Homo sapiens: one gene and its partners. The protein of the gene in region 3 purifies or fractionates together with the protein of the main gene of each other region. This does not show direct contact. Each region holds a gene or a part of one and is shown on either strand. Other genes may lie near its edges. The genes, in order: SPTBN5, ZNF469, GAN, CUX1, MAP4K3, ZC3H13 and CTNNA2.

Region 1 (4,223 bases), on a different chromosome or scaffold from region 3:
GTGAGACTTTCCATAAGACCTGAAGGGCAACTGGCTTCAGCCGGCCACTACTAGCCCTGTGGGAGGAGCTGCAATCCTGGGTGTCCCCCTAGGTAAACTTTGGTATATCTGGCTGGCCTCTAAAGGATCCCACCCATGCTCCTGGGGTGGATTCCACCTGCCATGTCAATCACCTTGGCTTAGAGTTGGAGCCTCTGGTGAGTGGGGTGTTTGTCTGCTCCTCCCAGCTCCTGAGAGCCTATCCTCCTGACTTCCTATTGAGCGATGTCACGCTGGTGGCTTAAACTCACCGTGATGGGGGGTATTAACGCCATAGGATCAGCGAATACAGCACACTGGAGTTTTTATTTCCCCCAGAGAATCATTTGTTAAACGTTTACCAGCACACCGCTGATCTGGGTTCAATGAATCTGTCTCCCTTTGAAGCCAGGTGCCTTGAGGTGGGGGTCTGGGCTTTGCTTAGTGGAGCCCAGCGCCTGCATAGAATGCCCAGGGCATGGGAGCATCTCCATAAGCGAATGCATCCCTCATTCTGCCACACATTCCCTGTGTGTTTGCGGCAACTCCGTCATCCTTTCTAGACCACAGTTGCCTCCTATGTGTATGGAGACAAGGATGTCACCCTCACAGGTATCAGTGACATGCTGTATATTAAAGCTTGGGGAGAGCTGCAACACCTCTGACAAAGGCTGTGGGGCTTACACCCTTCCCCAGTTCCTGGAGGGGAGATGACTGGCTCACAGGGTCATTGTCCCTGGATCAACTAGGGCCCAGCATTCTGCAGCTGGCAGCGTTCTGCTCTTGCACCTGCTCAGGACAGCAGTCACTCCCATTCCCTTTGCTTGGGCTTCTCCCCTCCCTGGCTTTCCTCCAACACACCCCAGGAGGCTGGATGTAAGCTCCACTCCAGGATATAGTGATAGGCACGCACAGTCAGGCTCCATCCAGCCAGGCCCAGCTCAGTGACTTCACAGCCTCCAGGGACAGCCACCTCCAGGAGCCCTTGGCCTTCACAGTTCCCGGTTTCCAATGATCCCTTTGCCCCACCCCACCCCTGCACCAGCCCCTCACCCTGGCCATGAGGGTCCCTCTGTCCCTGGAGCTCCGGCCTCCTTTTAGTGCCCATCTCCTTAGCCTGTCCCTTTCTTTCAGGTGACTCTGCCTCCCCCCATTTGCTGAGGCCTCCTCCCTCCTTCTCCAAGACAGGCCCTGCTCCTCTTCCCCACCTGCCGTCTTAGTCCCACATCTGGGCTCTGTTGGCTGGTTAACCATCGATCTTGCCTGGTAAATAATTCAGGGCCTCTGTTTCCTCATCTGTGAAATGAAAAGCCTAAGAGAACGCTAAGATTCTTTTGGCCTAGAATCCTGTGAGTCTCTCTTATGACAGACAGTGACATTTTCCACCCCAGTAGGGACCTGGATTGCTACTGCCATGGCCAGCTGGGTGCTCTCCAAGTCAGGGGTGCTGTGCGAGGAGGGCGTGGCTTCTGCTCCTCTGTGTCCCAGCCACTCCTCCTGTACTCAGGCCCCAGCTCCTCTGTTCTGCCCAGTGGCCTGGCGCAGGAAAGGTGACCCAGTAGTTCAGCCTGTCCCAGCTGCCTGCCCCAGCACCATCCCAGACCCCTTTCCCTGGGGCCCACCTTGGCCCTGAGGAAGGCCAGAGCTCGGCTGCTGTTCTCCAGGAAGTGCACACGCAGGCGGCCCCGGCTCGGGGGTGGCAGGGCCTCCCCTGAGATGAGCTCCAGCAGCCGCAGGAGGTGGATGCCGTCAGCCAGCTCTGTGTACAGGTTCCGGATCTTGATGCCCGCCTGGGGAGGGGACAGGGGTAAGTATGGGGTCAGCCCAGCCTCACCTGTCCTCCCATCCTGGGACCTGAGAGGTACGACCCAGAGCAGCTGCTTTGGAAGAAGGAGCTCTGGCCTCAGCTTGGCCTCAGGCAGATGACCCCACAGCTCACCCCGGAGGCCCACTGGCCAGAGCTGGGGGCCTGGTATGGGTGGGCTGTGGGTCACAGCTGGCTATACTCACCTGGCCGCACTGGAAGACGTTATTGATCCACTTGGTGAAAGTCTTCTCCTGCATCTGCATGTGCCGGGCCTGTAGCTTGCGAATGTGGCCCGTCTCGTACTGAGAGTCCATGGTGAGACTTGGACTGGGCGGGACCCGGAGTTCTGTGCTGGGCCTCCTGCTGCGGTGCCCTGCAGCCCCGAGGAGCTCCCGGGGACTGTGGGGCTGACCAGCCATCAGCCCTGCAGACTTTGGGGATGAGGAGCTGCTGGATGGCTCCCTAAACCTGGAGGGCATGCAGATTAGGGGATGATGTGAATGGAGATGGCCCCTCTACCAGGGGCCTGGGGTCCCGCCTTGCCAGACTGTCCTCACATTTCATGGGGGTTGCAGCTTGGAGCCCAGCCAGGTAAGGGCCAGTGCTTCTGGTCCCCTGTGCTTGAATGGCCCAGGGCCCCCTTTGCCCCACCCCACCTTCCAGATTCTTCTTCTCAGAGCCCCTGCTGCCAGGTCCCTCCACCACAGTGACTGGGACAGGTGGAAGGAAGACAGGAAACTGCTTACCTTGGTGATGCCTGGGTCCCACAGAGACGGCTCTGCTGGACGGATGGAGATGGTAGATAGCAGGGGCTGCTTACCTTGGTGATGCCTGGGTTCCACAGAGGCGGCCCAGCTGGACGGATGGAGATGGCAGATAGCAGGGGCTGTGGAGGGAGGGAGAGGGACATCAGGAGAGGCCAAGGCTGGAGCAGGGCTGCACCACAGCCCTCCCCTTGAGCCAGCGTGCTGGGGTGACGGCACACAGGCGGCATTGTCCTCCCACCTGCCACAGGGCGTGGCCCAGACAGGGAGGGGGTGGTTCAGGAATGCTCCAGGGCCATTGCCAGATGATGTCCTCCTTCATCATCCTCCCTTCCCCGCCAGCAACTTCTCCAACTCCAGGTGGGGGTCCTGGCTCCCAGGACGCAGAGGCCCATGGAGCGGCCCTGCCACCGCATGGGGTGCTGCAGTCTGCGTAGGAGGTACCAAAGGGCAGAGCCTCTGTGGGAAGCCTGTGGACGCACTTCCCAATCTGAGACTGCCCTCTGTACCCTCTTGGGGCCTCTCTGTGAGCACCCAGGGCGAGGGGATGAGGGAGCGTCCTGGGCCGTGGTCTTCTCATTCACCCCCAGGGAACAGCCCATAGACTGAGGGCCTCACAGACCCTGGGCTTGGCTTTCCAGGCCCTGCCAGAGTGCAGCCTGCCTAGCCCGGGGCTGAAGGGTAGGCTCCCTGGAGGAAGGGGTGACCTGGAACTGCGAGGGCTGTGGAGTCTCCTCCAAAATTAGAGACACGGTGTTAACTCTGGGCTCCACAGAGCTGGCCGTGGCCCGGGGCTCGGAGGCAGGGGTGCAGAGGGAGCTGGTGGGCGCCCATCCCTTCCTCCCCGAGCAGCCGTGGACTACATGCCAGAGTGAAGGCGAGTTCTAATTCTGGGGGTCTCACCCGCCTCTGGCTAAACTCAGGGTAGCAGTGTGGGCTGGGGTGTGTGTGTGTGGGTGTCTTCCAGCGGCCCTGGAGCCTCTGAAGCGACAGCCCGCTCCTCAGGGAGGCGCTCCTGGCAGCCACAGCCCACAGCAGGACAGCCGCTCAGCGCGCCCTTGAGAGCTGGGCTAGGGATGAGTCACACTTGAACCGCCTGGGCCCACTGCAGGCAGTCAGGGGTGACGCTGAGAGGTGCCGTGGTCTCGGGTGGGGTGCGGCTTCCTGCGTCTGAGAGACGCTTCCTCTCCTGCTGTCCTCTCCCTGCCAGGCCCCTTCTGCAGCGGCTGGCTTCCAGACACCCTGCGTCCCTCCCTTGCTCGCAGCAGTTGCTGTGGCGGTCCTCCCGTGCACCCCCCCTTCTGCCCTCACTGCCCCTGGGGGTCCTCATCACGGACCCCCTAACTCGGCATCCTGGACACCACCACCCCGCACCTTTCCACAGTGCAGCTCTGCTCGTGCCTGTGAAGCCTCCCACAGCCTGGGAAGGAAAATCCAGACTTGCCAGACCTTGCCTCAGCCAGGCCTTGGAAGCCTGCCAGCTTACCTAACCAGGCTAGTCTGCCCCCCTCACTCTGGGTGCTCTCCATGGGCCACTCACCATTTCCTGAGCAGGACCAGAGCTCTCCTGCCCCAAGGCTGGGCTTCAGCTGCTCTTTCAGCTTTGAACGTCCTTTCCCATTCTCCATCATCCA
Region 2 (4,123 bases), 7.1 Mb from region 3:
AGCAGCTGTTCCCAGAGCCTGGACTCTTAACTACTACACAGGCATTCCCCACATCATCAGCCCTATGTTTGGACAAGGAGGCAGGCAGGGTAACAGAATTTTTTTTTTTTTTTTTTGAGACAGAGTCTCACTCTATCACGCAGGCTGGAATGCGGTGGCACGATCATCATTAACTGCAGCCTTGAACTCCTGGGTTTAAGCAATCCTTTCTCCTCAGCCTCCCTAGTAGCTGAGAGTACAGGTGCACACTACCATGCCTGGCTAACTTACTTCAATTTTTTTTTTAGTAGAGATGGGGTCTCACTATGTTGCCCAGGCTGGCCTCAAACTCCTGGGCTCAAGTGATCCACCTGTCTCAGCCTCCCAAATTGCAGGGATTACACAGCCACCATCCCCGGCTGGTAACTGAATTATTAGTAGGAGTCAGAACCGGAAGGGAGGGTAGGGGGCTTGTCTTGAAACCATCTGGGCTCCAGATGAGTCCACCATGGCCTGATATCTAGGGCACTATCGGTGGTGACAAGACTCCAGGAGAAAGGAGGGGAGGGCATCTCTGCTTCCAGGCCACCCTGGTGTTCAGGTTTACTTCCGTTCAGCAAACACGAGGAAAGGGCAGAAACCCACTGAATTTCTCCCAGGGGAAGGTGGCAGGATGGGGCCTGACCAGGAATGTCAAGTCAGAAATGACCTGAAGAGATTAGGCATACAGGGGGAGACCATCCCTATTAAAATTATCCAAAGGCAGCCATGTGTAACAGCTGAGCAGATGTGCTGCCTGCTGCCTCAGGATGATGGACCAGTGCATTCCAGCTGGTAGGACTGCAGGAATGGCTGGAACAGGCTGCTGTGATGGGGAGTGAGTTCCCGGTCACTGGAGGTATCCAAGCAGAGTCAGTAACCTGGAGGCAGGGTCTGGTGGAGACTGAAGCGCTGATGAGGGGGTTGAAGTTCATGACCCCAAAATTTCCCTTGACCCTGAAATCCTGGGACTTCCTGGTTTGCACACTGCCCAGAGCTGCCAGCCTCGGGGCATTACAGCCACACACCCTTCACCTGTGCCTCCCAAGCTGAGACTCTGCGGGGCCCCTGGGTTCCCTTTGAGAAGGCCCTGGCCTTCCTTTTTGCCTCAGATATCCTCTTCCTCTTTTCTATTTGCAGGGCAGAATGATCACCTCCCGGTGAGCTCTGTCCTGTGGTCTGGGACCTGCCAGGCGCATGGCATGGAAGACACGTCTCCCAGGCCACCTCCTCCGAGGGTGCCTGGCTGCCCTTCCTAAAACTGCAGCTCCGCCCCAGCTTCCGAGCTCCCTGCTCAGCCCTCACGCCCGACGCTGTCCAGGCATTTACCTGTTTATTTTGTTTATTTTCAGGAATGCAGGGCTGTGGGCTGTGCTGGGGGCACCTAGGACAGGCTGGGCACTGAGAGGGCCTCAAGACACCTTTGTCCACCCGACCGGCAGAAGGGAACTAGACTTGCTCTTGGCAGAATGGGCAGGGGCTGTCCACGACACTACCGCGTGCTGTGCTCACTTCCCAGCATCAGCCCACTCTGACCATCAGTTTCTGCATCTAAGACTTGGGTTAACACGGATCTCAGGACGTAAGGATTAAACGTGATAACACGTGGCACACTCCCTATGCCCAGCATGGCTCACGGCTGGGGATGAAGCAGTTAACCGCCTCCGCTGCAGGAGCGGACTTGGCAGCTGAGCTGCCCCCCCGCCCCCGCCGGGGACCTGTCCCTCTGCCCTCGGCCCAGGGTGCAGGGACAAGGACTGGGTGGCCGCGGGAGTCCCCCGAGCCCCATTGGCCTTCCCTTCCGGCCGCCGCCACGCGGGGCGCCGCGTCCCCACGGGTCTAGACGTCCAGCCAACTTCCCGGCTCTGCAAAAGCCTCTGGGGGTGCGCGGGGCTGGGCGGGGGTGCGGCGTGGTCTCCCCCAGGGTGGGCTCCAAAGCTCCCACCCCCGTCCGGGGCGCTGACACCGCCGACTCGCAAGCCTATGCCGCGCTCGGAGCGCCGCGGGGCCAGCACGCCCGGGCGGGCGGCCCGGAGGAGGCGGCGGCACGGCTGGGGCACCCCCGGCTCCGATCCGCGATGAATGGGGCGGCCCGGGCCCCGCTCCCCGCAGCCCCGCCCGGAGGTCCCGCTCCCCGAGCCCCTCGCTCCGCGGCCCTCGCCAGTACGTTGCCCGGGCGCTTCCCAAACTGCCCACGGAGCCGGACCCCGCGCTGCCAACGCTCCGCTCCGGGCAAGGCTGCGGCCCCCGCCGGGCCCCGGCGCTCGCTGCCCCGCACGTCCGGGCCCGGGAGGAGGAGGTCGGGGGAGCCGGGCCGGGCGCCGCGAGCGCTGGGAGGGTCCGGCCCCGCCGGGGAGCGGCCCCCGAGGGCGCAGGAGCGGGAGCCGGGCCGGAGACCCCCGCGCAGCCCGGTGACACCCCCGCCCCGCGTTCCAGCCCGGGGTCCCCAGGCACCGCGCGCGCCCAGGCGGCGCATCCGCACTCACCTCCGCTCCGAGGCCCGCTCCGCCCGCCACGCCGGCCGCCGCCAACGAGCTCCCGGCCCGCGCCGCCCCAGCGCTCTGCAGCGGAGGCGCCGTCCTCATCCCGACCGCAGGCCCGCCCGGGCCGCCCGCCCGCCGGGCACCGAGCCGCTCTGCCGCGCGCTGCGCCTCGGGGCGGGGTGGGAGGAGAGGGAGCAGCCGCCACCCTGCCCAGGTCGCCGCGGGCCAGCCCTGCAGCCAGCTCCAGCCCTGGGCCGGGTGCTGGGAAGGCCGGACGCCGGCCGGCGGCCGCGGGGTCTGCCCCCCGGAGGCTGGGGCGGCTTAGGTTACAGACTCCGCCGCCCCCGCACCCTCCCCCCAGCTATTTTTAGCGCCGCTTTTCCTAGGTGTTTGTTTCATGGGACCCACCCCGGCGATGGGGGGCCCTGAGGCATTGCTCCCTGAACCCCCTCTTCACACTCCCCAGCCAGCCCACCCCAGAATGGCAGGCCTTGCTGCTGAGACGGAAACGCTGCATTCAGCACAACTTAAAAAACGTCTGCCATAATGCTACCCATGTGGCTTCCAGTGGCTGCTCTATCTCCATCCCTGGCCTGCGCTCCAGCTCCCCAGGTGCCCACACATGACACGCTTGTCCCTGTGCTTCTGTCTAGGAGGTGGGGGATGTCCCGACTGGCACCTGGCACCTGCCTGGGCAAGTTCGGTTTGAGTGGCTCAAGTTGGCCCTCGAAGGCACCATAAGGAGGTCCCCATGGCACGCTTTCTCATAGGTGGGAGCTAACATTGCCCCCAGACCTTCGTGTCTCCACTCTGGGTCCCTTGTCCAGCCCTGGGACTGCCCCAGACTGGCCCGTGAGTTCGGCAGCATTGCTGGTGGGGCGCTAGGAGCCATCCAGGCCCCTAGAGAGGGAGAGGCCCTTACCGGTCATTTGTCCAACATCTCCATTCACAGCCAAGGAAACCAAGGCCTGAAGAAGACAAGGAACCTGCCCAAGGCCACACGGCGGAGATGGCTCCAGGCAGAGCCCCCTGGCCCAGTACGTGCCCGTCCCCGGCTGTCCCAGACAGGGGCGTGTGGGCCTCCTCCAAGGGCAGGGGTGCAGCGTTACGGGCAGCATCTGGGGACGGATCGCCCTCCCCCACTTCAGAGGATCCCAAGTCATGAACTTGGTGGACTTCTAAGAAATAGGGTGGCAGTGGGGGGACTTCGCAGAAAGGAATGCTTTCAGAATTAGTCCTTCAGACAAAGGTCCCCCGGGAGCAGGTCAAGCACGCTTTACTTACGCAAGTTCAAGTTGCACACCCTTTTAAGGACACCTTTATTATGTAAAGCAAGGTGTGGCCTAACCACGGGCCTTCTGGTGGAGCCAATGAGTGGGCCTGCCCCTCCCCCAATCTGGTCTGCCTCCTGAAGCTGTTTTGGGACTCTGCGAACGGTATAGAATAAACTAAAAGGAACTGCACATGGCAGTGGGGTTTCTGTGCTGGCATCGCAGCACATGGCATTCCTGCCAGTGGACGCGAAAACGTGAATTGAAAAAGGGGCAGGGGCTGAAAGGCCCCAGAGGCTCGAGGCTTGGCTCACATTTCCATGGCATCATCTGGGGCCTCCAGGTCCTGGG
Region 3 (3,500 bases):
ATAACAAAAACTAATTTAAGAACATTGAAGGAGACATCACAGGAGAAAATGCAAACTATAAGAAGAGGCAGAAGTAAAAACAGTATAGGTAAAAGAGTGAGGACTTATCCACTAGAGAAAATTAACCAGAGCTAGGTTTTACTCCTATCACATTACTATTACTCATAATAACAATCCTCGGGAAAGTTCTACGATAAATCTGAACACCCCACACTTCCCTCTATGCTACAGACACTAGTCTAACAAGAATTTTGTTGATTTGTTTCATCATTTGAAACCTTCCAAAAACCTCTCCAGAATTAGAACATCTACTGCTACTAATAGTGGCAACCACTGTGTTATATAAAATAAACAAATATCTTTAAACTGACATGAGTAATCTGTGTTAAATTGAAATTTACAAGTGCTTAGTTTCCTTAGAAGCCTGGATAAAATATGTCTTTGATCTTCTGAAACTGAACATAGTTATTATCGCTTTTGAAAAACTCAGTAAGAATAGGGTTTAATCAAACAAGGTTGTGATTACAAAAAAGAAAAAAGGAAAAAAAAAAGAAAAGGAAAATCACTGAGAACCATTAAACTATCAAGACCTTCTGGACAAATTTCATCTTCTGAGCAGTTGTTAGGAACGCCTTATAGTAAGTAGATAAAAACAAAGTCTAGATCCCTTAAAAGAGACTCAAGCCCAGCTTATTTTCCATCACCATAAGAGTACAAGGAACAGGTAATGTCAATTTTATTTTAAGTGTGCTCAGGATTTCAAAAGATACTCAGAAACTGGAGCTTCTAACTGAACCCCTGAGCACTAAGAAACTTCACAGGCTACAATCACTATTCAAGATCCTTATGACAATCATTCGGGAGCTGCTATGAAGACTATAAACTCGAAACACAAGTGAAGAAAAGATTATGAAAATATTGTAAAGAAAGCAAAACATTATTAACTGAACATTACTGTGAAATCACTTTGCTTCACAGCCAGACTCTCATTACCAGGGAACACTTAGTGGATACTGCTGCCTCGGGAGTGTATTCTCAGCATTAACAGGGAAGCAAAGAATCTAATAAGAGGCTATGCAGTTATTCACATAAATTAATCAACAAAAGTAAACTGGGGATGAAAAGCAGGCTCTGCACACACCACATAGTACTCACGGACTTTAGTGCCCATGTGACATTAAACTACAGTGTATGTTTCAGATATTCAAAAAATAATGTCTATGTTACTATGAAACTTGGACCTCCTACAGAGATCCTATTAGTCTCCTTAAGTAGTTTCATCAGTATCATCTGTGAGTCAAACTTTATATTTAAATGGCAAAACAGGCTCATCAATAATTAGGCCTTGGAACATACCCAGATTAACAGCATAAAATAAATGATTGTTGTGATACAACTCTACAGGCCTGGATTTATACAACAGAATACCCAATAAAGTCCTGTATGACAGGGGAATGGAAATGCTTTAATATTAACATAAAACAAAACTTTAAATGACACAATAAAGCTATAAAAACAGAAACAGGTCCTCCTCCTCACAACACATACACATGAGGCAAAACAAAAATAGCATAGAGCTACATAACTTAGACTTAAAGGGGATTTGCTGTCCATGTAGCCCAACCACCTCACTTCACAGATAAGGAAGCTAGAGCCCAGAAAAGTCGCTCATGATGACCTAGGCTGGATTTGAGGCCCTATGTCTCATTCTATCCTCACTAGACCTGCCTTCTCTCAAAAAATAAGGGGGGGTCGGGGGGAAGCCACTTACATTCTTAGCTGACTCATCAAAGGATCTAAAAATCTTAGGAATCTTTTTTTTCATTTTCTCTCCAGGACTGAGAGCTAAACAAACTTTTGTTGCAATAGGTCTCCAGAAAACCCTAAATTTTACAAGTGATCACAGGACTGGAAACCTGTACAGAGCCACCATAATGTCACTGCAGAAGCACATAGCCGTTCATTTTCAAATCCTTTTCACATACATTACTCACCAAGAACCACAGCTCAGGAGAGAAATGGGTCTGAACTTTGCATCAGATCAATGGGACTGTGCCAGAATCGGAAGAGCCTCAGACATGAAGCAGACCAAACTGTAATATTCAAAAGAAAAATAAATTTCCTGCAAGCCGCAGGGAGCTTTCCCCAGAAGGTCTCAGAGTTGATGAGAAAGAAAAGGCTCTGTGGGTGCTTATGACTATGAATTCGGTTTTGCCATTCTTAGAAAGGTTGTTAGATATATATATATATATATAATCTATATCTATTTTTTTTTTAATTTAAGAGACAGGGTCTCTGTCACCCAGGCAGGCTGCAGTGCAGTGGCAGTCATAGCTCACTGCATCCTGGAACTCCCGGGGTCAAGGGATCCTCCCGCCTCAGCCTCCCGAAGTGCTGTAATTACAGCCATGAGCCACTGCGCCCAGCCTGTCAACTACTTTTAGGTTTAGTTTCCCCAACAAACCAAAGAGAAAATCTCACCCAGGAACCAAAAGGAGGAAAAGCTTTGGGAAAGGAGCATGCTGGGAAAGGGGCATGCATGCCATTTACTGAGCTGAGGGACCGCAGGAGGTCCTGCCTCCTTCCTGGAGCAGCTGCACCCTAGGGCTGCATGACACGTGCTCTCTCTACATAACCCGGGGATGCCAGTCCTCTCTGAGCTGACCATGAGGGTGTGTTGCCAAAGCTGAGTTTTCTGGCCTTTTCCTTTTATATTTAAAATCTTTCTAATATGGTAGGATTGCTAAGGGTGTCAGCAGGAAAAACAAGGGCTAGACCAAAGATAAAGCAGAATAAAAGATTAAACCAATAAGTCAAAAGACTTTTCTATATTAAGTAGAAAGTATGCCAAACAAGTTACTTTAATTCCCAGTGTGACAGAGTTGGACTGGCTTCCTTTGTTGGGCACATAGTAAGCAAAAGACAATACTGCTCCTATTTTTTATATACATGATTTATTATTGTACAGACTGGGTCTCACTATGTTGCCCAGGCTAGTCTCGAACTCCTGACCTCAAACGATCCTCCCGCCTCCACCTCTCACAGTGCTAGGATTACAGGTGTGAGCTACCATGCCAGGCCATACCACTGCTTCTAAACCACACAATCACACAACCACTTATGACAGTTACCAACACTAGGCCAAACACAGACATTAAACAAAATCAGAATTTTATAAAACTTCAGAGATTACCAAACTTTTGAACATTCAATTCACAGATTAATGATATCACAGATCTAAATGCTTAAGTTTCAAAAGGGAAAGATAAGAAACATCAAGTTCTAGAATACATAAATATATTTTGTTTCAATATAATTCTCTAAAGTGCTATTCAAACAAACAAGTACATTATAAAAGCCCAATATTATTGGTATTAAAATTACCAGTAAAAATACAAAATTAACAAATTTCTTTCTAGTTAGTGATACAGATTCGTCAAATTACTTTGAAACAGCTTCGGAATTGATAATTTTTAAAAACATCCCAAGACATTCTATCA
Region 4 (3,500 bases), on a different chromosome or scaffold from region 3:
GGAATGAAAAGTTTTATGTGGGCCTGGTGGCTCATGCCTATAATCTCAGCTCTTTAGGAGGCTGGGACAGGAAGATTACTTGAACCCAGGAGCTCAAGACCAGCCTGGGCAACAAAGCAAGACCCTGTCTCTAAAAAAAGAAAAAAATTAAAAATTAGCCAGGCATGCTGGTGAGTGTCTGTAGTTCCAGCTACTGGGAGGCTGATGTGGGAGGACTGCTTGAGCCCCGGATGTCCAGGCTGCAGTCAGCTATGATTATGTCACTGCACTCTAACCTGGGTGACAGAATGAGACCCCGTCTGAAAAGGAAGGGAAAGGAAAAGAAAAGAAAAGAAGAGAAGAGAAGAGAAGAGAAGAGAAGAGAAGAGAAGAGAAGAGAAGGAGGGGAGGGGAGAAAAAAAGTTATACGTGGATTTTTGACTGTGCAGGTGGGGTAGGGGGAACAGCAGAAGGGATCAGCCCCTAATCCCCATGTTGTTCAAGGGTCAACTGTATTTTAACCAACACTTATGTTACTTTGCAAAGAAAGATAATTAATGGGACTGAAAAAGTAACACTTATGTTACTTTGCACAGAAAGATAATTAATGGGACTGAAAAAGAAACATCTATTCCATAGGTGTACCTATCAGTAGCTTTCAAAACACAGCCATTTTAATATAATCTACCTGCTTTCACTATATTAAAAAAAAGAATTAATTTTGCATTCTTAACCAGCTGAATGAGTCCTAAATCGGACACACAAGGCAGAGAGTGGGGGCCTGTGTGGCGATGGTGTGGTGGGTACCCAAGGGATAATCAGGGCAGAGGGAGGGAACCCAAGCTCAGAGGGGAGCCCTAGAGATCCCCGGCCACCCCACGACTGTTCTGCTGGAAAGCCCTGTCTCCCACACCTCCCCAAGCACACAGAACTCAGTGGGCGCCCCCTGCCCACTCCCCGACCCGCCTTCCAAGCCCTTCCTGCAGCCTTCCCAGAGGCTCAGACACACTGCTCCATCCATCCCAGCCTCGTCCTGCCAGTCCTGTCCGCCCTCTAGGCGGGAAGCCACTGCTATTTTAAGTCTCCATCACTACTGCCGGGCACACAGGGGCAAAAGAAAAAGGAATGCATGAAATAGGCTTGAAGGCCGGGCGCAGTGGTTCACCTCTATAATCCCAGTACTTTAGGAGACCAAGGAGGGAGGATTACTGGAGCCCAGGAGCTCAAGACCAGCCTGGGGAACAGGGCAAAACCCTGTCTCTAAAAAAAAAAATGGAAAAATCAGCCAGGCGTGGTGGTGCATGCCTATAGTCCCAGCTACCCGGGAGGCTGAGGTGGAAGGATTGCTTGAGCCCGGGAGGTCAAGGCTTCAGTGAACTATGATCTCACCACTGCACTCCAGCCGGCAACAGAGCAAGACCCTGCCTCAAAAAATCAAAAACAAAAAAAAACAAAAAAATTCTGAAGTAGGCTTGAAGCTCAGATGTACAGAGGGAGGAGGAGGGAGCTCCCCCAAATAAGCAAGATTCTGGAGTCATTCTAGCTGGGATGGAAAAGGTTTAGGTGGGGCAGAAAGGACTATCAGGAACTCTGTCTGCTACCCTAAGAAATGTGGTCTCCACTCTGTGCCTAAGTGGGCCACCATGGATGTTTAAGGAGAGGAATGGCATGATGAAATCAATGGTTCGGGAAGATTAATCTGGCAGCTGCATTTATAATGGATTGCGACCTGTTTCGAATGGGCAGTTTTGAAACAAGTAAAAGACGACGCACTCAGCTCGTGTGTTAGAAAGACTTGGCTCTCACACACAATAAGCAGCCCCGAAGACTAACTGCGCGCGCGCGCGCACACACACACACACACACACACACACACACACACACACACACACAGATTTCATTAAGGTATCAGGGCGTTTTAAGATGACAGCATAATTATATACCAACACAGAGCCACGTAAAACAATCACAAACTACTTCTTACTCCCCTGACAATGACATTCAACCATAACTGGCAATATCCTTCCTCTCCCAGTCCCACATCGATGCTGACAAACTGCGGGATGACAAACTGCGGGACCAGGGCTGAGGACCAGGTGGAGGGGAAGAGATGACCAAGCCTTCCCTCTGGGACGGCCAGCTCCGGATGGTAGCTTTACGATTCCGCAGCACAGCTCTCCAAGGGCCCTGGCCACCTTGTGGTCCTCCAGGCTCATCGGTGACTGCAGGCTCCTGGATCCCATGGAGCAGAAACCTGAACTTGTCTCCCACTTGGCTGAGTGACGAGACAGCATGCGTTACTGTGTAAGCAACGAGTTGAGATACGGCTGAAATAAAGCAATTCTGGTAAATGAATGTTTCTATGCTGGTTTAAACACATGCTCCTCTGCTCTCAATTTTCTGTCTCAAACCTGTATGACTTATAACATCTCTACTGTGTGAATAGGAAGGGAAGATGGGATTTGATTAACAGCTCTGGTCGTAATTTTAGCTGTAATCTCTGTATGTTGGGGACTCCAGCCCTTTTTCTTTTGAAAGGTTGGTATTCTCCGGGCGGTTGCTGACTACGCTCTCGGCGAGGACACAGCAGAACTGTATGCAGCAGAAATAATTCACTGGACCCAGGACTGCATGGGTTCAAGTTCTGGGTCAACTACTTGGTGAAAAACAGAAAATAATATGTTTCACCATTATCTGCCACACCTTTCAGAGTGACACAGAAATGGTGACGGGAGCCACAGAATGTTCCCAGTTCCAGAGGGAGAACGAAAGTCTTTTCCAAACCTCATCAAAAACGTTACATGTATACGATTCCCTCCAGCGAGAATTTTATTTTTAATTTTCATTTACATAGTATCTTTCTTCCAAGAATCTCAAAATAATGGAGCTGTAGAAATACTTGTTTAAAAAAAAAAGTTGTCACAACACAGGAAGGGACAGGCTTGGCAGGGCAGGAGAAGGGCGAGAAGTGACAGGCCGTCCTGACAGCAAGGGCTCCAGGTAACACCCGGAGGCTAGGCTGAGGGCGGCTCCAAGCCGGCCCTTCCCTCACTGCAGCCCACGGCTTTACCAATGCTCACAGCTTCAGGCTCTTCAAGACAAAGATTTACCTTTGGTATCATCTGCTACCTTTTATCAAATTATTTTTTATCTAAATAATCATTTCTTCCCTAGAAACAGGAGGGGAAAGTGGTAATAAGCCAGAGAAACTTACAGGCCCAAAACAACAACTCAACAAAGGTGTCTAAAAAGAGTGGAGGCCAGGCACGGCGGCTCACACCTGTAATCCCACCACTTTGGGAGGCCGAAGGGGGTGGATTGCTTGAGGTCAGGAGTTTGAAACCAGCCTGGCCAACATGGTGAAACCCTGTCTCTACTAAAAACACAAAAATTAGCTGGGCGTGGTGGTGCACACCTGTAATCACAGCTACTCGGGGGGGCTGAGGCACGAGAATCACTTGAACCTGGGAGGTGGAGGTTGCGGTGAGCGGAGTTTGTGCCACTGCACTCCAGGCTGGGCG
Region 5 (4,161 bases), on a different chromosome or scaffold from region 3:
GAGACCTTGTGGCACAGCAGGAATTAGGTATTCCAACTACTACTTAAAGATCTACACTGACTCAGAGTGTGGCTACAACTCAAATGCTAAACTAAATGTGTGCCTCAGTTTCTCCACTGGAAATGTAATACATTATCTGCCCATCTCCTATCTTTAGAGAGGCAGCACTGCCAATTGGTTAAGAATACAGTCCCTAATTGGTTCAAATTTTGGCTTTGCCACCTACCAACTTTGGCAAGTTAATCTCCTTGTGCCTCAGTTTATTCAACTGCAAAATGGAGTTAACAATAGCACCTATCTCACAGGGTTGCTGTTAGGATTAATTAGAAAAATCTTATAGTGCCTGGCAAGTAACAAGCATTCCATAAACATCAGCTAGTATTATCATTATTTTAAACGAATGACAAGATTAACCAACTTAGTATACCTCTATTACACTTAGGAAATTACAGGCCCTAATTTTTTTTTGCTTTTTAATCATGTGGCTTAACTACTAACTGTTCTTTTTAATATAGCAAGTACACAGCCAATTAGTCCTGTAAAAAAATTCACTGTATACCCTGCCACCTAAAACGTATACATTCATCGAGTTTTAGTTAACTTTTCATCGCAATATAAGCGAACTCCCCCAACCAGTCATAAGTGACTTGCATCCATCCACTTCTACTTTCACAGTCATCACCATATTCCTTAACACCATTATTCTTACCTAGACTATCACAGTGGCCTCCCAACTGCTCCATTCCACTCTTCATGCTGTAGTAGGGAGCTCTTTTAAAAACCTAAATCTAATGTCACTCCTCTGCTTAAAAGCCTGCAATAGTTCCCCATTGTCCTAAACAAGTCCGATCTCCTAATGAGAACTAAGAGGCCTGCAAGATCTAGGGCCACCCTCCCGCTCTGGCTGCTCAGGCTATACAGGCCTTCTTTCACATCGGGCCTCAGAGCCTTCACATATCATGCTCCCCTATCTGGCGTAATCCCCTCTCCCCAGTACCCTAAGCAACGCCTAATCATCTCTGAGATCTCAGCTGAAAGGCGATGAGCGTCTGATACCCTAAACAGGATCAGGTCCTCCTATTACATGCTCTCATAACCCTGATCCTAATACTCTTTTCTGCATCACAAAATTAAACGGCAATAATTATTTAAATGGCTATTTAATACTGTCCTTGTCCAAAAAAATAGAAACACTTAGGAAGATTTGGAACCAAGTCTATCGTTTACTGCTACAACCCAAAGTGCTTACTTGCCAAGTATCTCATACATTGTAGGTGGGCTCAATATATCTATATTGCATAGTAGGAAAAGTGATGAGATCCACGATGGTGAAAAGTAGATCATCCAGAAAATCAGACTAAAGCAGAACACTGGCTGCACTGTATTAAATATGTAAGTTACCACAGGCATTACACTGAAGAGTAAAAACCTGCTTAAACATGGGCAAAATAAAGTTAAGACTGAACTTTCCAATGCAAAATTAAGTTTCTTTGTGCATCCTCAGGTGTTATGTGAAACTGGAGGAGTTCAACTTCAGTTACCAGTAAGAAGATACACAACTAAATCAAGACTGCTGCCACATTTGGCAACAACCTCCTCTCTTCTTGGCAGTAACTGTGAGGCCAAGAGTTGAGTTGGCCAGGGAAGAGTGATTTATCTTCCCACATTTAGAAGTGGTCCCTCTACAACAGGAATGCTGTACCGCTACTGGACTTTGAATTCTAACCTTGTCAAACCAGTACCTTCCCTAAGTATTCAAGTCACTTTTTAAAAAACAAGTTTAAATGGCATCGCAGTCCAATTCGACTTAGAGAAAACAAAGTTGCTCTTTCCAAAAAAAAAAAAAAGTCATTACTCTGGAAAATTAAAAGAAACTGACAGGGGGATGAATAAGGCGCTAAAGGCTGAGAGCTGTCGATGGAAGATGGAGGTCGCTCAGCATAGTATAATAACTACCACCGAGGCCTGGTGGGCAGCAGCTCCCAACCTAGAGCGGACGACCCCAGGTTGGCGTGAAGCAGGCAGGTTTGACAACACCAGACCCCTGCTGTCCGGTTCGTCGCGCTGACCCTGCCAACGCAACAAACGCCCAGACCTTCTCTGCACTATGGATGAGCAGTGTGGCCTGCTCTCGTTCTGCCCTTCCCTGGAAATGCGCGCAAGAAGGGAGGTGGCAAAAATCATGTCCACCGGGGGGGCTCAGGTAAGGGCTGGGGAGGTCTCGGGGTTAAACATTCGGCCCTTTGTTCACCAAGGCAGCAGAGCCCTTGGCGTCCGCAGCTCCTCCTCCCCGACTGCTCCCTGGCGCCAGCGTCTCCCGAGGACAGGCGGCAAGGGCTCGGACGCCCAGGCTTGGCTGCGGGTCGGGATCCCACGGCCTCGGCGGCGCGCGGCCCCTGCCTTTACCTTGTAGACGTCGCCGTAGGTGCCGCTGCCGATGCGCTGAATCAGCTCGAAGTCCTCCTGCGGGTTCCGGCGGGACAAATCGAAGCCGGGGTTCATGGCGGGCCCCAGGTGCCCCCCGCCTCCCTCCCGGGCAGGGGAGGGGGGCCGCTCAGGGGGCCACACGGAGAGAGGGCGCCGCGGCCGGCTCCCGGCTCCCCCGGCGGTCACAATCACCCGGCTCCACGCTGCGGCCGCCGCCGCCGCCGCCGCTCCCCTCACGCCGCTGCGGACGACGACAAGCGGCCAATCGTCCCCGCCCCCCGCGGCCCGCCGCCGCGCCGAACCTGGTCACACCCACAAGGAGAGGAGAACCCTCGCAGCCCCTCGCTCGGGGTGAAACTCCAACATGGCTTCCGCTTTCGCCGCTCCTCCCCCTCCCCTTACTCCGGCTCCTCCAACCTCCTCCCCTTTTCCCGACTCCCGCCCGACTGCGCAGCCGCGATCCCGGAGGGAGCGCGCCAGGCCTGGCGCGCACCCGACCCCTTGCGCGTTCCGGCTCCGCGCGCCTGCCAGGCCGGGGCCGGCGGCGGAACAGCTTGGGACCCGAAACGCCTCGGCTTTTCTGCGGACCCGCGCCCGGCCGCTGCCGCCGGACGCTTGAAAAGGTTTGCCTGGCCCAGGGACCGGGGTTAGGACTAGCAGAAAGTGGCTTCTTTTCGTTTCTGATTCCCCTAACGACAAAGTTGGACCTTGGTCTATCTGGTCCCAGTTCCAAGCAGGTAGCATAGTGGTAATATCCAAGACAGCCAATGTCCCAGCCTTTATTATTTTAGAAGCAGCTACATGTAGGATACCATGGAGTGCTGCAGCCTTTCTGGGATTGCGGGGAGGGGTCACTAAACACACCGTGAGGAAAACCCCCAGGAAAAGTGAGCTGTGCTTGCTTGCCCCTGTCACCGACACTCGGACCCTTGGAGTTGGCCTGCCAGGGTGCAAAGGAGGGCAGGCCAGGAGGGCCGCGAGGGAGGTGTGTGCAGTGGGCAGAGCGTGAAAGCTCCGGGAGGAAAACACGCGGAACAGCTGCCCACCATCCCGCGTGGGAGGCAGGCAGAGCGCAGAACTAAAGCAGTGATTGACCTCCCTCTTCGAAGAGGGTTGGATTATCAAAGACGGGCGGGGACTGCGCAGGCTGTCAAGCAACCCTGTAAAGAAGGGGTGGAGAGTGGACTAGATCTATTACCGCACCTGAAATATAAACACGTGACGATCCGGAAGCTCTTTAGCTGTGACCTTACCTACCCAAAAACCCCACCCTGCTTAAGACCCAGATTGCGCGTCTTACATCTGAGCTATGTGGACTCCAGCTCCGATTGTTAATACTTGCCCAAGAAAGCTTGAGGGTAATGGAAGGTTATTTTTCTGTTCTCATTGAACTTCCCAATAGACATTTGCAGGAGCTTTAATCAATTAGGTGATGGCCACTTTGGCAATACCACGTTGGAGTTTTGCTTCAGAAATGCTTTCCTAATCCCCTTAGGCACCACACCTTCTAACCACTAATATTCCCTAATACCTCGTGGCTCCTGAGAAACTAGGTCTCATCAAACCTGTTAAGGATAAGTATAATAAATTAATAGTAGAGCAAACTACTTAGAGTTAACTGCTTCATACTTTTTCAAAAAATCTTTTGAATCCTTTTGCTCATAGGAAAATTGCATATGTACTAAATTCTCAAATTGTTTACTTTGAGTATCTGTTGACTAAATTGATGTTTGA
Region 6 (3,500 bases), on a different chromosome or scaffold from region 3:
CAACAGAGTATTTTCTGACAACTAAAATGGGGGGAGAGAACTTAATCCTTAACACAATAAAAAGTATCTGCAAAAAATCTACAAACACCATACTTAGTAATAAAATGCCAGCAACAATCCTTTAAAATCTGAAACAAAGCAAAGCCCCTTCTACTTATATATATATATTTTTTTTTTTTTTTTTTTTTTTTTTTTTTTGAGACGGAGTCTCACTCTTTCGCCCAAGCTGGACTGCAGTGGCGCTATCCCGGCTCACTGCAAGCTCCGCCTCTTGGGTTCATGCCATTCTCCTGCCTCAGCCTCCCGAGTAGCTGGGATTACAGGCGCCCACCACCACGCCCGGCTAATTTTTTTGTATTTTTAGTAGAGACGGGGTTTCACTGTGTTAGCCAGGATGGTCTCGATCTCCTGACCTCGTGATCCGCCCGCCTCGGCCTCCCAAAGTGCTGGGATTACAGGCGTGAGCCACCGCGCCCGGCCCCTTCTACTTATATTTAACACTGTATTGATAAAGATGCTCAGAAGGTTACTGACAGAAAATTAATAATCAGAAAAGAAGAGCCAAATCAGTGTGTTCCTAGGAACATCTGTTAAGAGAATCTAATTAGATCAAGAAAATACAGCAACATCATTTAAATGTAAGATTAATACACAAATGCCAATTACCATTTCCAGGTACCAACAAAGCATTAGAAAATGCAATGTTTTAAAAGACACCATTTAGTGACATATGTACACAGTTATTCACTAAAGCACTGTTTGAAAGAGATAAAGATTGGAAAACCAAAATACCCAGTAATGCAGCACTTGCTGACTTTATGGTATATTCTACAATAGAGAACAAGTACCAAAAGAAGAAAATAGCTGTTTACCACAAAGAAAGACATGAAAGATATTTTTACTAGTTGAAAATAGTAGGATATAAAACAGTACATAGTTTTTTCCAGTGTTTTTAAAAATTAGTTTTGTAAAACCAGAGGGGAAAACAAATGGATATATATTTGCTTGTGTAAAATGTTTTTTGGGAAGAATACATACAAAGCTGGCAAAAGAGTGGTCAGGGTACAACGGAGGCTTTTCACTATATATCCTTTTATACATTCAAAATTTTGAACCATGTAAATACATAATTTACATCTTACAAAATGTAAAAGTACTATTTAAAATGGCAATAAAAAATAGAGGATACACAGGAAAAAATGTAAAAAATATTAATGAGAAATATTATAAATTGATTAAGTTGATGCATTGAAATAAAAATCCAACAGTTTTTTTATGAAATTAAAAACTGTTTTCTAAAATTGATATGAAAAAGTAAAAGGTCAAGAAAAGACAAGGCAGCTCAAAGAAGCTAAAGGACCCTCAACACAAATATGAAGCTGTAATACTGACCAAGGATTGACTAACAGACCAATGGAAAGAATAAAAGTGATCAAAGTTCTGCAGCAGTGTTTGGGGAGAGGGGAGAAAAGCAGGTGGAGGTAAAGAGAGGTCATGATAATTAAGTCTCAGCAGTTTGGAAATAGTTACAATATATTTAAGTCATTTGGGTGATGGCAAATACTTTTTATGAAAAGAAAAATGGCTCAAGATAATGACGTGTGGCAGTTTGACAGGGTCTGAAGCAAGTACAAATACTGAAGAATACACAAATCAGTCATTTCTGATGCCAACAATTCTGAAAACCCACCACTTTAATCCTACTTTAATTTAATGAACATTTTATCATATTTATACCTATTTAACAGAAAGCAACTTCCTCGTGATTCTACTTTTTTGTCTGATAGTGATTTTCTTAGTGTTCCACATTAATCAAGATGATAGGCATGACTGGATATACTTAGGGGGGGTCTAGCTCAAGCTCCATTTATCTTTTGCTATTTTAACTAGTAATTCCAATTAGGAATTTATAAGGAAGACTACAAGTTCAATTAATTAAAAATTACTGTGACAAAATGATAACAAATGTAAGAAACAACATATTAGAAATCTTAGGAGATTTTATACTTTCTATATAAGATATAGTTCATAGACAAGTCAAAAACCTTACCCTTTTCAGGTAACTCAGGAACCCTCCCCCTACTTCGGCCCATTCGGTCATTTCTAATTTCACTTCGAGACTCATTTCTGGACTCATTCCTTATTTCCGTACGAGAACTTTCTTCTCTCAAATGGTTTCGGCCATAACTCCGGGATTCTTCTGGATATGTATCCTCCTTTCGATGAGTATCTCGACCTTCACGGTCCCTGTAGTCATGGGCATCACGAGTGGACCGAGAATCTCTGGGATCACGGCTCTCTTTGGTATCTCTGCTATAATCTCTCATCTCCCTTGAGTCCCGCATGTCTCTGGAGTCTCTTAGTTCCCTTCGGTCCCTAGTATCTCTGGCATCTCTCCGATCCCGACCATCTCGAGGTTCTCTGTCATCTCTGTGGTCTCTAGAAGAGCTCTGATCCTGTTCATATTCTCGTTCTTCTCTTGAGTCCTTTTCTCTGTCTCGTTTGCCCCTAGTATCTGTAATGCAATTTTGGAAATTGACTGTAATTGCTTTTACAAAGTTTCAGGAAACTAGAAAACATATTTAATACAGAACTTTAAAAATTTTATTATAATGACAATTCGTGTTCTTTGCAAAAAATAAAGAAGCTAAAATTCCAAAGATAATTAACACCTGATAAGAATGTTCTTCATTAGATAAACTCCGAACATGAATTTCCTCTGCCCCAACTTACCTATACTGCCCCAACTCACCCCAACTTACCAGATCCTAAACAACTGAAACAAATAAGTTCATCTCCTATCATTGACGGCTTACTTTTCAGAAACCACTTTTAGATACAAAGACACTTCAGTTACTTTAATCTTTTCTATCAACTATTAAGTTAGGCTAAACTAGACCATCTGTGACCTCCTCAAATGTACTTAAGCACTTTAGGGTAGCCTATGGTTAGTAAGCTAGCTGGTTGAGTGATACTATTATTCACTCTCTTTTCCTGCACTGTTTAATGGTATAACATTCATGTGTGCAAGTCTTTAAAGCTTTCTCTACTTAGAGCATTTTCTAGCTGGGTGACGTGGCATGTACCTACAGTGCCAGCTACTTGGGAGGCTGAGGTAGGAAGATCACTTGAATCCAGGAGTTTGAGTTCAGCCTGGGCAACATAGGAAGATGAGACTTTTTCTCTTTAAAATGAACGAACAAAAAAGCATTTCATACAAAAAAATAAATACTTGCACTTTTTAAAAGCTGAACCACAGTGATTATCTAAACAAACCATGTCATTTTATAATAAAGAAATAGAGGCCCAAAACTTAGATGGCTTAGTCAACCCCATAATTTGCAAAGATTAGAAACCACTCTTTACATATATTTAGAAAGGGCACAAATTGATTATAACAAATCTGATATGAAGCCAAAGAATTAACAAGAGAACCTCAAAGGATAAATTCTGCCCTTTTTATCAGATTCTTCTGCAAGGTGCTCTTATACTCTGGAATT
Region 7 (3,115 bases), on a different chromosome or scaffold from region 3:
ATTTACTAGAAGCCTTTTGGAGACATGGTAATGTGATAACTTGTAGCAATCATTCCAATGAGAGGAGTTTGGAGAATTCAGGTGACTATTTGGGGACTTTTTCTCCATTTCTCAGTTCATAGTTGAAATACTATCACCACTTTTTAATAATGGGACAGAGGTCCTGTTTTTCCAACTTACTTAAAAGGAAAAAGTCTAAAATGAGTAAAATATTTTTAAATTAATTGGCTCTTCTATTACAAAGAAAGACTGTCATTTTCAATGCAGTATGAAAGTGAATGAAAACAAGTGGAAAAACAAACCACAAAATAAATATGTGAACTCTAAAAATGACAATTATTTGGATATCATCTATTTTATTACTAATCTCTAAAATTTTATTACTAATCTCTAAAAACCAAAACATAATGCATTTTTTTAATGAATTTTCAGGAAGATGATGCTCTAATCTTTATTAAGTACATACTTAAAAAATTAAAAAAGAAAACATACTTGAGATGTCAAGATTAAATGTGTTTATTTTGAGTTAGTTAGTGAATACAATGGTATATTAGATACCAGCACTCCAAGCTACACCTATGTATTTGCCTCTAACTTTCACACGTTGTCAGTTTCCTTCCCTCTAATATTCCACCACTGGGCCTTCTATTTCTAGCAAAATCATGGTTCAAATTAAAAAGAAAAAAAAATGAAAGCAAGATTGGTCACCGTATTGTGCTTCCAGTGCCCCCAGAAGGATTTTAATTGTCTCAAATAGATGTTTATTGTTTTCATTAAAGGGGGGAAAAAAACATGATCACTAGTAATGGCACAACTAGAAGAGGAAACAGAATGCAGATTAAAAGAAGCATTTTAGGCTGGACTAGTTAATTTCCCCTCAGTTAAAAATCGACATAATATCACGGATATAGACTTCAAGGTTAAATTGTTCAATTCATGGGCCACACACTTAAGCGTATTGGCTAGTACATTTTTGCACTGAAACAGAAGCAATACAAGTTTTATGTTCTACCATTACACTTCCAGATTTTTCACTTATGCATATACCTGCCAACCTAATGATTCTTGCATGCATTAGAGTTTGCTTTTGTAGAGTTAAGTTTATTTTCCCCATCCCTCCCACTCCCATAAATATTGCGCCAATGCGAACTCTGTGCCCAATTTTATGAGAATGTTGCAAAGGACAGCTCTGTGCCACCTTAGTACAGGAATGTCCTGTCTCCTTCCCAGGCTACAGATGGATCAGTAGTATTGATCTCATCTCATCTTACATGCAAACAGACACTGTTCCCTTAATTTCCCCATGCCAGAGGCATACGAGCTGGCAGGTATGCATACAAAAATGGAATTAAAAAGAAAAAGAAAGAAAGAAAAGAAAGAAAAAGCTTTCTTGTTAAAACCTATCGTCCTAGAAGGAATCCATTGCTTTGAATTCACTTAAAGCCTGTACAGGCGAAATGTGTTTCTTCTGAGAACCTCGTCGAACTCGTGTCTGGAATTCTTCAGGCTTTTCTCTCTTCACAAGGGGCTTCTTCTCTGGAGCCTTCATCTTCCAAGACACAACAGGTGAGTTGACAGCTGCTGTCCCATAGACCTTCTGGTATTTGGTTGAGGCCACATAGGATGCTTTCACCGTGAGGACAACAGCATTCATCAGGTTTTTAGCTGCCTGGATAAGCGATGTGGCACTGTCCAGCTAGAGTAGGAAAAGAATGAGATACATGTGGGTTAATGGAGGCCCCAAATTCACAAAATGGTGATGTACTTTCACGGTTAAAATAATGTTTTCCTTGTGCAAATAAATAGTATTGCTGAAAAGGAGCAAATTATCACAAGTTAAGGTTTTTAAAATCTCAATACAGCTAATGGCAAAGCCCTCATCTTAGCAGGTAGGAATTCCAAGGTAACAAAAGTTTTCCAAAGTAGAACATCTCATATTATTACATTAGGGTAATTAGCAATGGTGACATTTACTCAAATGTTGGACAAGCATTTGGCAGACACTAAAGAAAAAAAGTTATAAGGGGTTACCTCTCAATTTTATGGCCCAAGAAATGGAAGTATCTATCTATAGGCTATTTCTGTATCTTGAGCTCAGGGTTGGTGAGGATACAGTCATTTAGGCAGAAGAACAATCCATGGGTGTTCTTGCTTCTATGAGGTGTTAATTGAGCTTGGAGTATCAATTTAACTATTAACAGGTCCTCAGTATACCTCCTATATAAATACTGATACTTATGTCAGGATCTCATAGCATTCAGTGAGACCTTCTCATACATGCATTAATGAAATATTCAGTATTTACTATGTGCCAAATACTATTATGAGAAATTTGTATTTTCCCACTTAGCTCTTGTTAACAACTCTATAATATAGGCATTATCGTCATGCCCTTTTAGAATGAGAGAGCTGATACATGCAGAGGTCCAGTAACTAGCACAGGTTTTAGTCTTTAAAGATACTACTCATCTGTACTGTCACCTTGTTGGATAGGATGGCTTTTAAAAATGCCAAGACAAGTCACAACTTGAGAATAGGTTTAGAGGCCCATCACCAGACTTTTAGGCCAGGAATATTTTGGGTTACCTTTTTTCTGTCTTTAAGTAGTTAGTGTGGTATGTACTGTATACTAGATCATTCAATATCTTCTTCAACCTTCTTGCTTCACTGCCTGCATCACAGATGCTGGGGTTATGTCTCAATGTTATAGCCCAACCAATGGAAGTACCTATTTATCTATACACTATTTCTATATCCTGAGCTCAGGATTGGTGAGGCTCAAAAATGCATTTCCTAGACTCTCCATCAGCCAGGAGTCTACATGTGAGCTAGTGAAAGAAAAGAATTAACAGCTGAACTGCAAATATCATTCCAGCCTCAGGGATGTTTGAGCATAGTCTGATCTTTCATCAAACTTCTTGTAACATCAACTAATGAGATATATCAATTACAGTTAACTGAAGGAAGCAAAGATGTTCTTAAGTATGCTGTTCCTAGTTGGAGAGATTATTTGTTGTGTAGCCTGTAATTCATGAACTTCATGAACTGTAGCTGCATTAAGCCTTCTGGGGGCTAGGTGACTAAGAAAGTGTTTAAACTGAGAGACTGTAGATCT

The links.
Region 1: the proteins of GAN (region 3) and SPTBN5 purify together in Homo sapiens (affinity purification with mass spectrometry, with the first as the bait; one study listed by BioGRID). This does not show direct contact.
Region 2: the proteins of GAN (region 3) and ZNF469 purify together in Homo sapiens (affinity purification with mass spectrometry, with the first as the bait; one study listed by BioGRID). This does not show direct contact.
Region 4: the proteins of GAN (region 3) and CUX1 purify together in Homo sapiens (affinity purification with mass spectrometry, with the first as the bait; one study listed by BioGRID). This does not show direct contact.
Region 5: the proteins of GAN (region 3) and MAP4K3 purify together in Homo sapiens (affinity purification with mass spectrometry, with the first as the bait; one study listed by BioGRID). This does not show direct contact.
Region 6: the proteins of GAN (region 3) and ZC3H13 purify together in Homo sapiens (affinity purification with mass spectrometry; 2 studies listed by BioGRID and IntAct, with this or other methods). This does not show direct contact.
Region 7: the proteins of GAN (region 3) and CTNNA2 purify together in Homo sapiens (affinity purification with mass spectrometry, with the first as the bait; one study listed by BioGRID). This does not show direct contact.

What each region holds. Positions count from the first base shown.
Region 1 is NC_000015.10:41,891,254-41,895,476, forward strand, and holds the start of SPTBN5 (spectrin beta chain, non-erythrocytic 5), read right to left. Parts: upstream 2,801-4,223; 5' UTR 2,646-2,800; intron 2,305-2,645; coding exon of another isoform or gene 2,245-2,304; coding exon 2,029-2,244; intron 1,826-2,028; exon of another isoform or gene 1,809-1,825; coding exon 1,641-1,808; exon of another isoform or gene 1,524-1,640; intron 1-1,523.
Region 2 is NC_000016.10:88,381,636-88,385,758, reverse strand, and holds the start of ZNF469 (zinc finger protein 469), read right to left. Parts: upstream 2,801-4,123; 5' UTR 2,505-2,800; intron 1-2,504. UniProt on the Homo sapiens protein: May be involved in transcriptional regulation.
Region 3 is NC_000016.10:81,317,962-81,321,461, reverse strand, and holds part of GAN (gigaxonin), read right to left. Parts: intron 1-3,500. UniProt on the Homo sapiens protein: Probable cytoskeletal component that directly or indirectly plays an important role in neurofilament architecture.
Region 4 is NC_000007.14:101,824,126-101,827,625, reverse strand, and holds part of CUX1 (Homeobox protein cut-like 1), read right to left. Parts: intron 1-3,500. UniProt on the Homo sapiens protein: May be involved in intra-Golgi retrograde transport.
Region 5 is NC_000002.12:39,434,486-39,438,646, forward strand, and holds the start of MAP4K3 (mitogen-activated protein kinase kinase kinase kinase 3), read right to left. Parts: upstream 2,801-4,161; 5' UTR 2,503-2,800; coding exon 2,407-2,502; intron 1-2,406. UniProt on the Homo sapiens protein: Serine/threonine kinase that plays a role in the response to environmental stress. Appears to act upstream of the JUN N-terminal pathway.
Region 6 is NC_000013.11:45,983,247-45,986,746, forward strand, and holds part of ZC3H13 (zinc finger CCCH domain-containing protein 13), read right to left. Parts: intron 2,516-3,500; coding exon 2,051-2,515; intron 1-2,050. UniProt on the Homo sapiens protein: Associated component of the WMM complex, a complex that mediates N6-methyladenosine (m6A) methylation of RNAs, a modification that plays a role in the efficiency of mRNA splicing and RNA processing.
Region 7 is NC_000002.12:80,646,166-80,649,280, reverse strand, and holds the end of CTNNA2 (catenin alpha-2), read right to left. Parts: intron 1,697-3,115; coding exon 1,409-1,696; 3' UTR 501-1,408; downstream 1-500. UniProt on the Homo sapiens protein: May function as a linker between cadherin adhesion receptors and the cytoskeleton to regulate cell-cell adhesion and differentiation in the nervous system. Required for proper regulation of cortical neuronal migration and neurite growth.